Linked DNA regions of Homo sapiens. The protein of the gene in region 1 interacts with the protein of each later gene in a pairwise test. Each region holds a gene or a part of one and is shown in the gene's direction. Other genes may lie near its edges.

Region 1 (7,505 bases):
AGCCAAATGAGAAGGTGACCTATTGGACCTTATAAAACATGAGCACTGCCTCTCTTGAAAGAAGCCAAACAGGACTGTTTTGAGGAGGGCAGCTCAGCCCCTAGGCCGTGAAGGTCCATCTTCTTAACCTGGGCACATTGACCTCCACAGACTGCATGAGTTTGGGTCTTCACGAAGGCCTGAGTACCCCCGGAACTCTAGACAAAAGTTTGTGCATATACGTATTTCGCCCTGAAGAGAGAAGAGCTTTCATCACGTTCTCAAAATGGTTTGCAGCCCCCTCAAGAGTTAGGAAGTGTAATGGTGCCTTGGGGGAAGCTCACCCGGTTGCCACTGGGTCTTGGGGAGACGTCCTCTGCGGGCCCCAAAGATCACTTATCCCGAGCTGAGCCTCAACCCCGAGGCCGGCCAGGGCCTCAGGGCTCCGGTCCTGCCTCCCCCGCGGGCCTGCCTGGCCGGGGGTCAGCGGGCTGGGGGCGCCGGGGAGCGCGGGGAAGGCCCGGCGGGGGAGGACCGACCTTGTCGCCTCGTTCGGGTCCGCGTGCCGGCGCCGGGGGCGGGGTAGAGGCGAGGTGGGGCGGGGCTTAGGGCCTGGCCCCGCCCCAGCGCTGACGTCGCGGGGCCCGAGGCGCCGGCGGGGCCGCCAGTCGGCCGGAGCGCGAGAGCCGGGACCCGGGCTGTTGGCGGCGCACGCCGGGGAGGTTGAGGCGGAGGAGCGCGCGTTCGGGCGCCGCGGACGCTGTCCTGTAGCGGTCTCGCCGGCCTCGGCGTCCGGACTGTGGCACCGCGCGGGGACTCCCCCCGCGCCCCCGCTGCCAACGTTAAGCGAGGGCCAAAGCCCGCCGCCCGCCCCCCAGCATGCGCACCTCGTACACCGTGACCCTGCCCGAGGACCCCCCCGCCGCCCCCTTTCCCGCCCTCGCCAAGGAGCTGCGGCCGCGCTCCCCTCTCTCCCCGTCCCTGCTGCTCTCCACCTTCGTGGGGCTCCTGCTCAACAAAGCCAAGGTACGCGGGCCCTTTTCCGGGACCCCCGCGCCGAGGGCCTGGGGTCCCGCCTTCTCCCTGGCCTCTGCCCGCCACGCGCCCCTAGGTGAGGGGACGGATTCTTCCCAGCCCCCACCCCTCCTTTCCCAGGGTCTCCTGGCAAGGAATGCCCCCTCCTCAGGTGATCGCACGCTTACTCGTGGTCCCCTCCCCGGGTGGAGGTCCGAGGAAGTCCCCCTTGCCCCCTCCCTCTCGGTGGCCCCGGCACCAGGTGGTGGCTCTTGGCCTCTCAATTCCTGGCACCTATCAGGACAGGTGCAGGAAAGCATAACCTTGACTGGGTCTCGATCGGTGTGCGAGGGCAGCACGCTGGACCGTGCCGGGGTACTCCTCCGAGGCCAAACCCCGGCGAGGAAGGCTGGGCAGAAAGGGGCCGCCTCCCCTTCACTGTCCACCAAGGGCTCTTTCCCAAGGGTTGGTGACGGGGGTCCTTTGACCCTGTGAAGGGCAGACGAGGTGCAGACAGGTGACAGAGGGCAACTTCCCCTTCTTTCCGTCCTCTCCATTTATGCAGCGGGCAGCGGGTCCCTCCGCGGAAGCAGCCCCCAGGGGAATGCCGGGGCCGAGGCTGGGCGCTGCCCGCCTGGGGAAGGGAGAAGGGGCCCGAGCTTTGACAGGTCTTATGTAACAGGCACCAGCTCCCGTGCTGGCAGTGCGTGCCCTGCCCCGTGCCAGGGCCACACCAGGCTTCCTAGCTGCAGCCAGGACTTGGGGCGACCCTCACCACACAGGTGAGGTAGGCGGGAAAGCCCTTGATTGGGGTCTCAAGTGTGAAGACACAAACCTCGGCCTCTCCTACCGAAGGGTGCCCAGATGCTACCTCTGCATTAACCCAGGCAGGGCTCTCCTGAGCCCCCGCTCCTCTCCTCTAGAAGGTGAAAGCTGTCTATTTGCTGATGGTGAAGGTGCCATCTGCTCCCTGCAACAGTGCTTGATACTGAGTCAAAACTAGGTTTGCTGATGGCTGAATGGAAGGAAGACTGGGTCCAAACTTTCTCAACTCTTTGCACATGTGTCCCAGCATAACACTTGGGGTCATTTCCTTCTCTGGCTTTCACCGAAAGAGGTTGGCTGTGCAGGGTCTCCCACCTTCTGCAGTTCTGGCCCCTTTCTCCCTGTCGACCCTGAGGTAGGATTGTTTGTCCTGTAAGAAAGGTCACTCTGGGGACATTTTGTTCCCCTCTGTAATGAAAAGTGCTGACTTTCCCTGGAGCTCCTGATTTCCTATTCTTGGCAGAAGAATATCTGGCTGGGCATGGAGCAGCCCTGCTCCCCCTCCTCTGTCGCCCCCACTCCTGTTATCCACCCGCCTTCTACACAGAGCACCTAGAAACTGGCATGTGGTTTTGAGCTGAGGAAATTTTAGACAAAGGCATCAACCCCCACCCTAAAACATAACAACCAAGGGTCCTAAGGATGCCTTAAAGGAGCTTCTCCCATCTCCCCACCCCCCAGGCCAATAGAGGGGTTAGATCCTCAAGAATAGTAATCGTGGGTGACGAAGTGTCCTTCTTGCCCCTCACTGCTGGGTCAGAATTAAGTGTCAACATCTTAAAACACCACAGGAGTGCTTCTGTAGACAGATGACTCCGTTTTCCCATTTCCCTACCCCCATTAGCACTGAGTGACTGTTGTCTCAGCTGAGGGCCTGCTTTGGTGAACATTGACACGGTCACCAGTGGTAGAATGCTTTCCCCTACAGCCTGTTTAGACAGATGTCATCTGAGGCACAGGGGCTAAGAACTAATAAAGCACTGCCAAAAATAGACGTAAGGGTGGGTATTCTGTTGTGGGCAAGCTTTAACATTTAGTTCCGAGTGCGCAACATGGAGACTTTTGCAGCGTTTCACCAATTCTGGAAAATGCTGAGAAGGTCTTTGTCCCAGGGAATTATCTCTGTTGCGGCCCTCTTGCTGACTGTCAGTAAGTCAGATTCAGATGTTGTGTGGGGCCATATACTGCCAGCCCTAGCCAAGTTCTCTAAGGATGCTTATATCCCACCTGCTGCCAATTGGCCTTTCTCTCTAGCTGCAGGTTTAAACTGGGTCTCTTTTCTGGGTATATTTTTCTTCCCTACCTGTTAGTGCTAGCCCTGACAGCTGGCCAAGAAGGGATCCTCTTACTTGTGGGATCGGTAAGGCAGTTCTTGAGAAAAGCCCTCCTTCAGCCTGCTCCTCCCCCACCCACACCCCTCCCCCCCAGCTGACAACCTCATGGGCTTTGAGCTGCTGACAGCCTCATAGGCTGTCAGCACACGGCATGAGTAATTTTAGCTGAGTTATTTCAGGCTCCTGTTCTGATCAGGGCTGAGCTGGCCCCACGCATGCCCCAGTGTTGCTCCAGAGTTGCCTGCTCCCAGTCCCCTCCCTGAGAGAGGGGGTGGCAGACTCATCTGCAAACTGTTTATTTAACCCTTTGAGCCTGAAGGTTTTCTGACTCCTTGGAGATATGCCCAGGATTAGCCAAGAGACCTTGACAAATAAGCTCAGAGTCCTCGATCCAGCACCTGTTCTCTCTCCAACCCCCTCACCCGCCTCCGCTATAGGGCCAACAGCAAGAGTGGCAATTTCAGCCAGGCCCTTGCCTCTGCGGGCCCAATCTGCCATCTCCAGGATTCCCAGACAGTGGCCAGTCAGGATGTTGAAACCTGAGCCAGGCAGGGAGGATTCTCCGAGTCTTTAATCAGCCCTTAGGAGCTGAGCTCAGCTGGAAGGAATTCCACCTGTCTCTGGCAATTCAGAATGGCAGGCTTACTTGAGTTTTTCCCAACTGAAGATCGAAACTCAAGGTGTTTTGTTGTTTAACTTTTCAAAACCTCCTCAAAGTGTCTCTTATGAGAGTTACTTTATATATTGGACTTCTAGGAGTACAAATATAGGTCATTTGAGATAGCACCTGGATTTGGGACTCAAAATTTCTTATAGTAAGGAGTCAATATGTACCAAATATATGAATTCCTAGTCTCCACTGTAGCAGAGAATAGAGAATAACATAAAGATGGGGGGCAGGGAGATACATAGTCAATACACACTCAATAAAGCCCTGAAGAATATTTTTGTTGGTTGTTGAAAATAACAGGCATTTAGGCAGGACGCGGTGGCTCACGCCTGTAATCCCAGCACTTTGGGAAGCTGAGGCAGGTGGATCACCTGAGGTCAGGAGTTCAAGACCAGCCTGGCCAACATGACGAAACCCTGTCTCTACTAAAAATACAAAAAATTAGCCGGGCATCGTGGCACACACCTGTAGTCCCAGCTACTCAGGAGGCTGAGGCAGGAAAATCGCTTGAACCCACGAGGTGGAGGTTGCAGTGAGCTAAGATCGTACCACTGCACTCCAGCCTGGGTGACAGCGTGAGATTCCGTCTCAAAAAAAAAAAAAAGAAAAGAAAAGAAAATCACAGGCATTCCTCAATCCTCTTTCCTACAAAGTACATAGATGGGTAAAGTTGAAGAAAGAATATTATGTGTGGCCTGCTGCCTGTGGCTCCAGCTGGTTAGAAATTGCACGAGAGAGCCCAGCACAGGCCTAGCATCTTTGCTTCCACCTTATTGCCATATGTTCTTTGCTTACAGAATTCTAAGAGTGCCCAGGGTCTGGCTGGTCTTCGAAACCTTGGGAACACGGTGAGTTTTTCCTGGCCTGCTTCTTCCCCAGGCCCACCCCCTACTATGCTGACTGGAGCCATATAACCAGAGTCCCCTTCTGGTTGTGGCTGACTCCCTACCCGTTCAGCCAGTTGGCACTTGCCCTTCCTGGCTGGTGTTTCACAGAATTGCTGGGCTGTGCTTTACCCACCCCCAGCAGGAAGCACTGCTAAAAGGAAGTTGCCCTTTTACCCATCAGCCTGCTCCTCTCCTGGATCATTCCCCTAAAGGATGCCCATCACTTCCCACACACTTCTGTCCATCACATCACGCCCTTTTGTGCACCTCTATAGTAAATAACCAATTAGGTCACCTATGCCTGGAGTGGGGGTTTGCCTCACTTCACCCCTTTCACTTATGAAAAGAGGAACTTGAGGCTATGAAAGGATAGCCTCCTATGAAAGGATTCTAGGTAGATGAACCAGAGAGCCTCTGGTAGTAAGTAACACAGGTGAAGGTGGGACTCTCGTCTCCCCACTGATTGCCTGGTCATCTCTTGCAGTGCTTCATGAACTCAATTCTGCAGTGCCTGAGCAACACTCGGGAGTTGAGAGATTACTGCCTCCAGAGGCTCTACATGCGGGACCTGCACCACGGCAGCAATGCACACACAGCCCTCGTGGAAGGTGAGAGGCCCTCTGTCATGTGCCCCTGCCTACCCCCGGATGCTCCTCCACTCCACTGGGGCTGTTCTAGGTGTTGTGTCTTAGACACTCCTATCCTGTCTGTCTTTCTCTGCTTGCTTTTTGTTGGGATTCTAGTTTCAGAGTTTCTTATAGAAAATATCTCAGCTGTCCTGTACACTCTCTCCTTCCAATAGAGTTTGCAAAACTAATTCAGACCATATGGACTTCATCCCCCAATGATGTGGTGAGCCCATCTGAGTTCAAGACCCAGATCCAGAGATACGCACCGCGCTTTGTTGGCTATAAGTAAGGGCCTTGCAGACATGTCCTCTCAGGTGGGTGGCAGTAGGAGCAGGTTCTTAGGACAAGAGGTGTTGCTCACCCTCCTTCCTTTGGGTTCAGTCAGCAGGATGCTCAGGAGTTCCTTCGCTTTCTTCTGGATGGGCTCCATAACGAGGTGAACCGAGTGACACTGAGACCTAAGTCCAACCCTGAGAACCTCGATCATCTTCCGTAAGTAAGAGGAGAATGCTGTGGGAAAGCAAAACTTTTGTGAACTCGAGATTTTTACCCACCACTTTGGGGTTAATGATTTGGGAATAATCTGATTTACTTTTGAAGATGAAGGATCAAAATTGACAGACCCTTAAACTTAAGTTTTGAGCTTTGACCCAATTGTTGTCTCTCTCTGGTTCCCAGTGATGACGAGAAAGGCCGACAGATGTGGAGAAAATATCTAGAACGGGAAGACAGTAGGATCGGGGGTAAGCGCATGAAAGGGAAGATGCCTGTTTTCACTGTTGCCTGCTCTTGCCTGAGTGGAGCATGAAAAGCCCTAAGAATCACTCTCCCGGGGAAGCCTGTTTCTGCCTAGTGTTCAACAAAGCAAAGCAGGAACAGCAAGAAAGAAGATGCTGTGCAGGCCGGGCATGGTGGCTCATGCCTGTAAACCCAACACTTTGGGAGGCCAAGGCGGGTAGATCACCTGAGGTCAGGAGTTCAAGACCAGCCTGGCCAACATGGCAAAACCCCATCTCTACTAAAAATGCAAAAATTAGCCAGGCATGGTGGTGGGCACCTGTAATCCCAGCTACTTGGGAGGCTGAGGCAGGAGAATCACTGAACCCAGGAGGCAGAGGTTGTTGTGAGCTGAGATTGCACCACTGCACTTCAGCCTGGGGGACAGAGCAAAACTCCATCTCAAAAAAAAAAATAAAAGCTGCTGTGCAGAAGACCATGCTCTACTTCCTGTATTTCAGCATCTCATGGCCTTCTCTTCCCCAGATCTCTTTGTTGGGCAGCTAAAGAGCTCGCTGACGTGTACAGATTGTGGTTACTGTTCTACGGTCTTCGACCCCTTCTGGGACCTCTCACTGCCCATTGCTAAGGTATGCACCCCAGTTGCCCGCCTTGTTGAACTCCCTCTCCTGTCCTTTCATGTTGACCTCTGACCTTTGCTTTTTTCCCCTTCCCAGCGAGGTTATCCTGAGGTGACATTAATGGACTGCATGAGGCTCTTCACCAAAGAGGATGTGCTTGATGGAGATGAAAAGCCAGTAAGTCACCCTTCGGTAATAGCAAGAACAAATTTCCGTGGGACCTACTGGGAAGAGGCTGATACCAGCAGATCCAGTTGAGGAGTGACTGGATTGGGGCCCACTGACTTCCCCACAAGTTCTTTCTGTTTGTCTTGTCTCTCAGACATGCTGTCGCTGCCGAGGCAGAAAACGGTGTATAAAGAAGTTCTCCATCCAGAGGTTCCCAAAGATCTTGGTGCTCCGTATCCTTAAGATCCATCAGGGCTGGGACATGACTTTCAAGGGTGACTGATGACAAGGGGCCCATAGGTGAGGGGAACAGTCGGAAGAAACGGACCTTGTAGGCTTTCCTTTTGTTGTCTGCCCTTCTGCATTGGTTTGACTATCCTTGACTCACGTCAATGCCAGATCTGAAGCGGTTCTCAGAATCCAGGATCCGAACCAGCAAGCTCACAACATTTGTGAACTTCCCCCTAAGAGACCTGGACTTAAGAGAATTTGCCTCAGAAAACACCAGTGAGTATCTTTGAGTAGGCAGGGCAGAATGAAGACGCAGGTGTGCAAGGCCGGAGGGAGGGCAGGAGGAAGGGGAGCTGCCAGCACCAGCTACTGAGAGACCCAGAAGGAGAGGTTGGAGGGGGGAAGTCGGG
Region 2 (7,505 bases), on another chromosome or scaffold:
AATCGAAGGAAGCCTAACTATTTTCGTGCCCTACAAAAATGTCTGTATCTCATAAAGTTATTCACAGATTTCTGGACATTCTATCTGTGACACATTTTTTCCCTTTCTGTTAAGAGTGCAGATTACTGCATTATTCCTACAAAAGGAAGCAAAATAACCCTAGTTTGTATGATTTTTCTGATAATTTGAAACTTATTCGTTTAAAAAGCTATCTGGCAATTCCAGGTTACTGGACTCTTGAGAAGAATATCCTTTTATTTTGATACTATAAAATATCAAAGTATCAAAATACTTTAACTGTGCAACTTAATAAAAATAATGCTTCAAAGTTAGCTCTGCACTATCGCTGTCCTCAAATGTGTGGTATTTAAAGGAAGAAAATGTTTTTAATTCTGAGCTTTGTGAATAGAACTCTTCTAAAATCAGAAGTTTTTTTTTTTCTCCTGCAGTGTTGGAAACACAACAGTTTTATGCTTATTTCTGGGAATAAGAAAGTCAAACTTAACAATCTAGTTTCCATTGATCAGACAGTTTTTGTACTTAAATTTAAGTTCTAAGCATCAGAGTGATAAATACTTTTTAAAATTGTATTCACTGTTAATTATAGTGGCCTTATTTGAAGTAAAATCTTGACATTGGGTGTTTTATTAATGATGATCCTCTGCTACTGAAAAGCCTATGTCAGTTTGGAGAAGATTTTGCACATCTAAATCTATGCTGTTTTTACTAATCAAAAGAGAAGAGCAATTTACAGGTGTTAGATTTTTAGTTGGTTGAATGAGACCCTCACTTTTGATGGTTTCAGAGTTGAAGTGACGTTTTATTACTTTTGTTAGTTTGGGTCACACCCATCACTTCCTTGGAAGGTATCTTTGAGGTTTGGTTTCCTTTTTTTTTAAATGGTAATATTGGGGTGGGGGTGCTTCCTGTTTGTATTTTCAAAATTAGGTCCACATGTTAACCTTCTTGTAGTGTCACATTTTTATTTTAAACTTATACAGACAAACATCAGATGCCATGTGGTTTGTCTCTGACCCTTTGCGCTACTTCATGACAGCTTTACTGAGTGAAGCCTGAATACCCAATCGGGAAGGCAAGATGTTCTTGTCTTTTCCCAACTCTCTTCAAAGTTTAACAGCCTTGGAAGGAGTCTTAGAACAGCAACAAAAGCACAATTTACAGAAAAATGGAGGTGCTGCTATCTGTTTCCTCGCAGGTACTTGGAAAATGTATAGCACTAAGATAGAGTTGAAACATGTTATGTAGAGCCTTGAATGTCGGTGCTTCAAAGAGGAGTTGCTCTGGGTTTACATGATACAGAACCCCATGGTTTATATTAAGTAGTAATGATAGCCGTTTTTCTGGACTCGCTTAAAAGCCATACACAGTGTCATGGAAAAGAGTTAAGAACAAGGTGAAATTCAGGGTATGGTATTAGAGCTCAGGAGGAATCACCTTCAGCCTTAAAACTCTTCCTTTACTCTCCTGGATCACTTAAGTGATAGGTCACTTTTAATATAAATGTTGCAGGATGAGTTAAGTGGAGCCTTGAGAAATATGTGTAGATTGTTTCAGTGATTAAAGCAAGTGTTCTTTTCCTGGCCTTTAACTCGCTTTATGCTAAGAAGTGTAATAACTAAATAGACTCCTAATTGAATTGACATTCAGATGTGTTTGCAGTTTAGGGGGAGTTTACCTCTTCTAAATTTTCATTTGGATCCCATTACTAAAAGCAGTATTGCATTAGCATGGTGCACAATTATGTACAATTCAATTTGCAAATGAAGTTAATACTTGGAGTATCTTGACTTCCTATTCCCCTGCTGCCCCAATATTCAAGAAAGGAGAAGTTATAATTTGTCACATACAAGATGGTTTCTTCTTTAGGTTTATTCTTAATAACTATGTCCATTTTCACATGGATGACACCACTGAGATGATGAATACCTGTATTGATTGATTGATGAAGAACATTTATCTTTTTCTACCTACTTTTGGAAGCTAGCTTGCAAAATCTACTGCAACATTCACTCTTCATGTATCCTTCTATTACCTTTGGTACCCTGAATAACCTTTTAAAAATTTTTGTACTTTTCTAATATGAAGAGAAGTAGCTTCATATTCTATGCTAGTTTTCTGAGGTGCTTGTGCTGACTCATTTTTTAAATTATACTAAGATATAGAGCATGGTTTGAGAGCAGTAATGAGATTCTCAGAAAATATGAAAACTTTCCTTTCTGACTAGTTAGAGAAAGGTTGGGGAAGACAAGGGGAAATACATCAATGAGCCAATCAATTATTGTTATTTGTTGGGATTAATTTGGTGACTAATATTTTTAATGCCCATCAGGCTACTAAATGTGAATTTGGCTTTACCCTGTAATGATAACAGGACAAACCCAACGGGTTTCTAACATTGCTTGTTTTCCCCTGGTAGGGGATTTCTTTGCATATGGGAAATCAGGCCGAAGTTGCCAGTAACAGCCACATCCATGATTTGTATTAAAAATAACTATTCATCATTCTGGGCTAGAGCTCTGCTTACCATGGCTCACCTGGGAAGATATTCTGATTATGTATCTAATCATTATGATGCCACCTTTCGAGAGGTGAGCAGACAATTAACAAGTCCTTCAAATTATGTTCAAAACCCAGAGTTTGAGAAAATGTTCCAACGCCTTCAAGTGTGAAGATAATAAAAACATTACCTAATGCTTACCGTTCACTGACAGTGTGCTGGGCAGACATTGTTTTCAGCTCTGGCCTTGTGTTAACTCGTGATTCTCAGAGGAGTGGGTATTATTCCCAGATGGAAGATGAAGAAATGGCCACAGAGAAGTTAAGTAATTTGTCCAAGGTCACATTACTGTTCTTGGCGGGGCTGATTCCAGAGACTGCATCCCTAACTAGTGTACAGCAAAAGCGAGCTGGCCACTGCCACTTTGTTATAAGACATTTTGTTTCTTTGAGGCTTGTATTTCTTTGTGTTCCCAAATGGAGTCTCGTTGGTTTTTGAATAGAAAATATTTTTATATGTTTAGGATTTTTTTAAATGTTGATGAAGATGGTGATAAATATTTTTCCAATTAAAGTATATACTTCTGGTGGAAATTATATTAAAGAAGAGAAAGTCTTAATTTTTATTATAAGTTGTCTTTCATTCTTCTTCCCCTAGCATTACCGTGTACATCATAGAAGAAGAGCTATAAGCTGTCTCCTTGGCCTCTGTTTACAAACAAAGGGATCATTTGTGCCAATGTAGTGGGTTTGTGTTGACATGCACGTCTGTACTGAGAACTCAACAATCCCACTCATTTTATTTACAACTTTATTTTGCGGGGATTTCTGTCCTATTCTTGTTGCATTAAAGCTTTTTAGAGCATTAGTCATGATTTCTGAGACAGATTTAAGAATTTTACTTATTTGGGCTAATTTATTATTATTATTTCTTGAGACAGAGCCTCGCTCTGTCACCCAGGCTGGAATGCAGTGGCGCGATCTTGGCTCACTGCAACCTCCGTCTCCTGGGTTCAAGAGATTCTCCTGCCCAGCCTCCGGAGTAGCTAGGACTACAGGCATGTGCCACCATGCCCAGCTAATTTTTGTATTTTTAGTAGAGACGGGGTTTTGACATGTTGGCCAGGCTGGTCTCGAACTCCTGACCTCAGGTGATCCTCCTGCCTTGGCCTTCCGAAGTGCTGGGATTACAGGCATAAGCCACCATGCCCAGCCTATTTGGGCGAATTTTTAAGGCAACTGAACTATTGTATGTCTAGAGCTCTGCAAAGGCCATTAGAAAATAGTCTCAGATTTTTTTTTTTTTTTCATTTATGATGCTTACTTTCTCTCAGCACTTTTCCTTGGGAGTGGATTGTGAAGTTAAGTCTTGGAAACAGAATTCACAACCCTAAAGCGTAGTGCTTTAACTTTGGGAGATCAAGTCACAGACAAGAAGAACTTCAATTCCCTGTGCAGAGTATAAACTTGTTCAAATAAACAGAGGATGTTAGCTTCCAGGATTGTCAACTGTCACCTTTGACCAGGGTTGAATTTTCTTTGAATGTTGACAGAAGTTACAATGTCAGTGGAAAAAGCTTAATGTGAGGTATCTATAACTCAGAATTTCCTTATGTTTGTGTCAGTGAGATCCTACAATTAAAGCTGCTTCTTTTTTTCTATGTCTGATGAGTTTTAAAAGCCTTCACTGGGGTTTTCCAGCCTTTAGGTGAGAGTAAGTTAAAAAGTTTGTGAGAAACTATTTTTTGTTGTCTAAAATTCAGAGCCTAGGTCGGGCCCAGTGGCTCACGCCTGTAATCCTAACAATTTGGGAGGCCGAGGCAAGCGGATCACGTGAGGTCAGGAGTTGGAGACCAGCCTGGCCAACATGGTGAAACCCTGTCTCTACTAAAAATACAAAAATTAGCCAGGTGTGGTGGTGCACGCCTGTAATCCCAGCTACTCAGGAGGCTGAGGCAGAAGAATCACTTGAACCCAGGAGGCAGAGGTTACAGTGAGCCGAGATCGCACTACTGTGCTCCAGCCTGGGAGACGGAGCGAGACTCCATCTCAAAAAAATAAATAAATTAAATAAATTCAGAGCCTATAGCTGGTGGCAAGTCACTGTTTTTGAAGGAGTGGGATTTTAAAAAATCTAACCTGGGCTAAATGTTAAGTTACATTCATACATGTCATTGTAGCCTATATAAAAAGAAACTTGAACACTTGATCTCTTAAAGTACTAAAAATTGGAATTCATCAGCTTTGTAATATAGCATTCATTCTACAGTATATTTAAATAGGTAAAATGTTCTGTTAGAAATAATGCTAATTCTGTTTTTTTGTTTAATGTTTCTAAAAATCTTTTGGTCATCTTTTAGGTTTAGGAAAAGTAGCAAATTAGAGATCTACAGAAATCTACAGCTCTTTAAAAATGAAACAGTTCACCCTGTGAATTTGTTTGCAGGATTGGTGATCTGTTTCTGATGCCAGGAAGGTGGGACTCCTATCTCATTTCTGATAGAAAGTGAGGGAAAGCTATGTATAGTGAGAACTGGATACTAGATTCTTATTCCGAAGGCATGGAAGGTTTAATATGTAAGGATACAATGTAAATAGTCCCTCTTTTTGTATTTTTCTTTGGTTATTGTTACGTAACTATAGTCGTTTGTCACTTAATGATACATGGTGACAAAGTTCTAAGAAATGCATTAGGCGATTTTGTCATTGTGGTACCATCATAGAGGGTACTTACACAAACGTAGATGGTGAGCCCTACTGCACACCTAGGCTGTATGATAAAGCCTATTGCTCCTAGACTACAAACCTGTGGAACATGTATACTGTATTGAGTACTGTAGACAATTGTAACACAAGGGTAAGTATTTGTGTATCTAAACATATCTAAATATAGAAAAGTTACAGTAAAAACATGGCATAAAGGATAAAAAATGGTACATCTATATAGGGTACTTAACAGGAATGGAGCTTGCAGGACTGGAAGTTGCTCTGGGCAACTCAGTGGGTGAATGGTGAGTGAATGTGAAGGCCTAGGACATTACTGTACATTACTGTAGATTTTAAAAATACTGTCTGGTTAGGCTACATTAAATGTATTTTGAAAATTGTTTCTTTCTTCAATAATAACCTTAGCCTACTGTAATACTTTTACTTTGTAAACTTTTTACTTTTTTTTTTTTTTTTTGAGATGGAGTCTTGCTCTTGTGGCCCAGGCTGGAGTGCAGTGGCGTGATCTCGGATCACTGCAACCTCTACCTCCCGGTTCAAGCAATTCTCCTTCCTCAGCCTCCCGAATAGCTGGGATTACAGGCGTGTGCCACCACGCCTGGCTAATTTTTGTATTTTTAGTAGAGACGGGGTTTCACCATGTTGGCCAGGCTGGTCTCAAACTTCTGACCTCAGGTGATCCACCCACTTTGACCTCCCAAAGTGCTCGGATTATAGGTGTGAGCCGCCGTGCCCGGCCAACTGTTTACTTTTTTACACTTTTAAACTCTTTTGTAGTAACACTTAGCTTAACACATAAACATGTACAGCTGTGCAACAATATTTTCTTTATGTTTTTATTCTTTTACTTTTTCTCTTTTTAAATAATTTTTAATTTTTCAAAACTTTAAAAACTTTTTAATTTTTCAAAACTTTAAAAACTTTTTCTTAAAAGTGAAGGCATAAACACACACATTAGTCTAGGCCTACACAGGGTCAGGGTCATCAGTATCACTGTCTTGCACCTCCACATCTTGTTCCACTGAAAGGTCTTCAGGGGCAGTAACACATATGGAGCTGTCATCTCTTGTGATAACAATGCCTCCTGAAGGACCTGCCTGAGGCTGTTTTACAGTTAACTTTTTTTTTTAAGTAGAAGGAGTACACTCTAAAATAACGATAAAAAGTATGGTAAATACATAAACCAGTAACATAGGCATTTATTATCATTATCAAGTATGTACTGCACGCAATTGTATGTGCTAGACTTTCACATGACTGGCAGTGCAGTGGGTTTGTTTACACCAGCATTGCCACAAACATGTGAGTCATGCATTGCATTACAACATTATGATGGCTACAGCGTCACTAGAGGATAGGAATTTTTCAGCTACGTTTTATTATCTTATGGGACCACAGTGATATATGTGGTCTGTCATTGACTGAAACGTCATTATGTGGTGCCTGACTACATATATGGAAACTCTGAGTGTAGTCATGTTTTACAAATGAGTTTATCTTGCAGTGAGTTTAAATATCAAGTAAAAATACTAATTTCATTGTAATGTATGAAGAGATTGGCCTTTCTCCTCATGTTGAAGGTATCAAAACAAAATAGAAAATATTTGGCTTCCTGAGTGGCATGGCTACAATTCACATGCTGAGTTGGTGATGAGGCAAGATCCCTTGACTTTGCAATACCAGAAAAATGCACATAGTTAAAAAAAAATAGAGACAGGGGTCTTGCTATGTCTCCAGGTGATCCCTCCCACCTCCACCTCCACACCTCCCACCTCAACCTTCCACAGTATTGGGATTACAGGAATGAGTCACTGCACCGGGCCAAAAAGCATATAATTTTAAGGGAATGATTTTTTTTTTTTTTTTTTTATTTTTTGAGACAGTGTCTTGCTCTGTTGCCCAGGATGAGTGAAGTGTGCCAGGAGTGGGTCCTTAAGTAAGAAAACGTATTACTTTAGACACACATTTAAAATTTTGTCCAAAAATGTGATATTCTCAAAATTTATGGTTTTGAATTTTATTTATTATTTTAATTTATTATTATTATTTTTTAAAGAGTGGGGTCTCACTATGTTGCCCGGGCTGGTCTCAAAGTCCTGAGCTCAAGTGATCCTCCCACCTCAGCCTCCAGAGTAGATGGGACTGCAGGTGTGAGCCCCTGAGCCTGGCTAGTTTTGAATTTTTATTACCCAAATGTGAAGAGGTCTAGTTTGCACAGAACTTAACATTACATTCCAGTTTTATTGGTAAATTTGAACAGG

The links. The genes of interacting proteins can lie anywhere in the genome.
Region 2: the proteins of USP2 (region 1) and STAT5B interact in binary tests that used the Homo sapiens proteins (3 or more experiments, as listed by UniProt).

Annotation. Positions count from the first base shown.
Region 1 is NC_000011.10:119,357,349-119,364,853, reverse strand, and holds part of USP2 (ubiquitin carboxyl-terminal hydrolase 2), read left to right. Parts: intron 1-645; exon of another isoform or gene 646-858; coding exon of another isoform or gene 859-1,005; intron 1,006-1,135; exon of another isoform or gene 1,136-1,150; coding exon of another isoform or gene 1,151-1,165; intron 1,166-4,619; coding exon 4,620-4,670; intron 4,671-5,193; coding exon 5,194-5,317; intron 5,318-5,511; coding exon 5,512-5,623; intron 5,624-5,719; coding exon 5,720-5,830; intron 5,831-6,016; coding exon 6,017-6,081; intron 6,082-6,601; coding exon 6,602-6,705; intron 6,706-6,792; coding exon 6,793-6,873; intron 6,874-7,018; coding exon 7,019-7,097; intron 7,098-7,263; coding exon 7,264-7,371; intron 7,372-7,505. UniProt on the Homo sapiens protein: Hydrolase that deubiquitinates polyubiquitinated target proteins such as MDM2, MDM4 and CCND1. Isoform 1 and isoform 4 possess both ubiquitin-specific peptidase and isopeptidase activities.
Region 2 is NC_000017.11:42,266,155-42,273,659, reverse strand, and holds part of STAT5B (signal transducer and activator of transcription 5B), read left to right. Parts: exon of another isoform or gene 1-5,374; intron 5,375-7,505. UniProt on the Homo sapiens protein: Carries out a dual function: signal transduction and activation of transcription. Mediates cellular responses to the cytokine KITLG/SCF and other growth factors. Binds to the GAS element and activates PRL-induced transcription.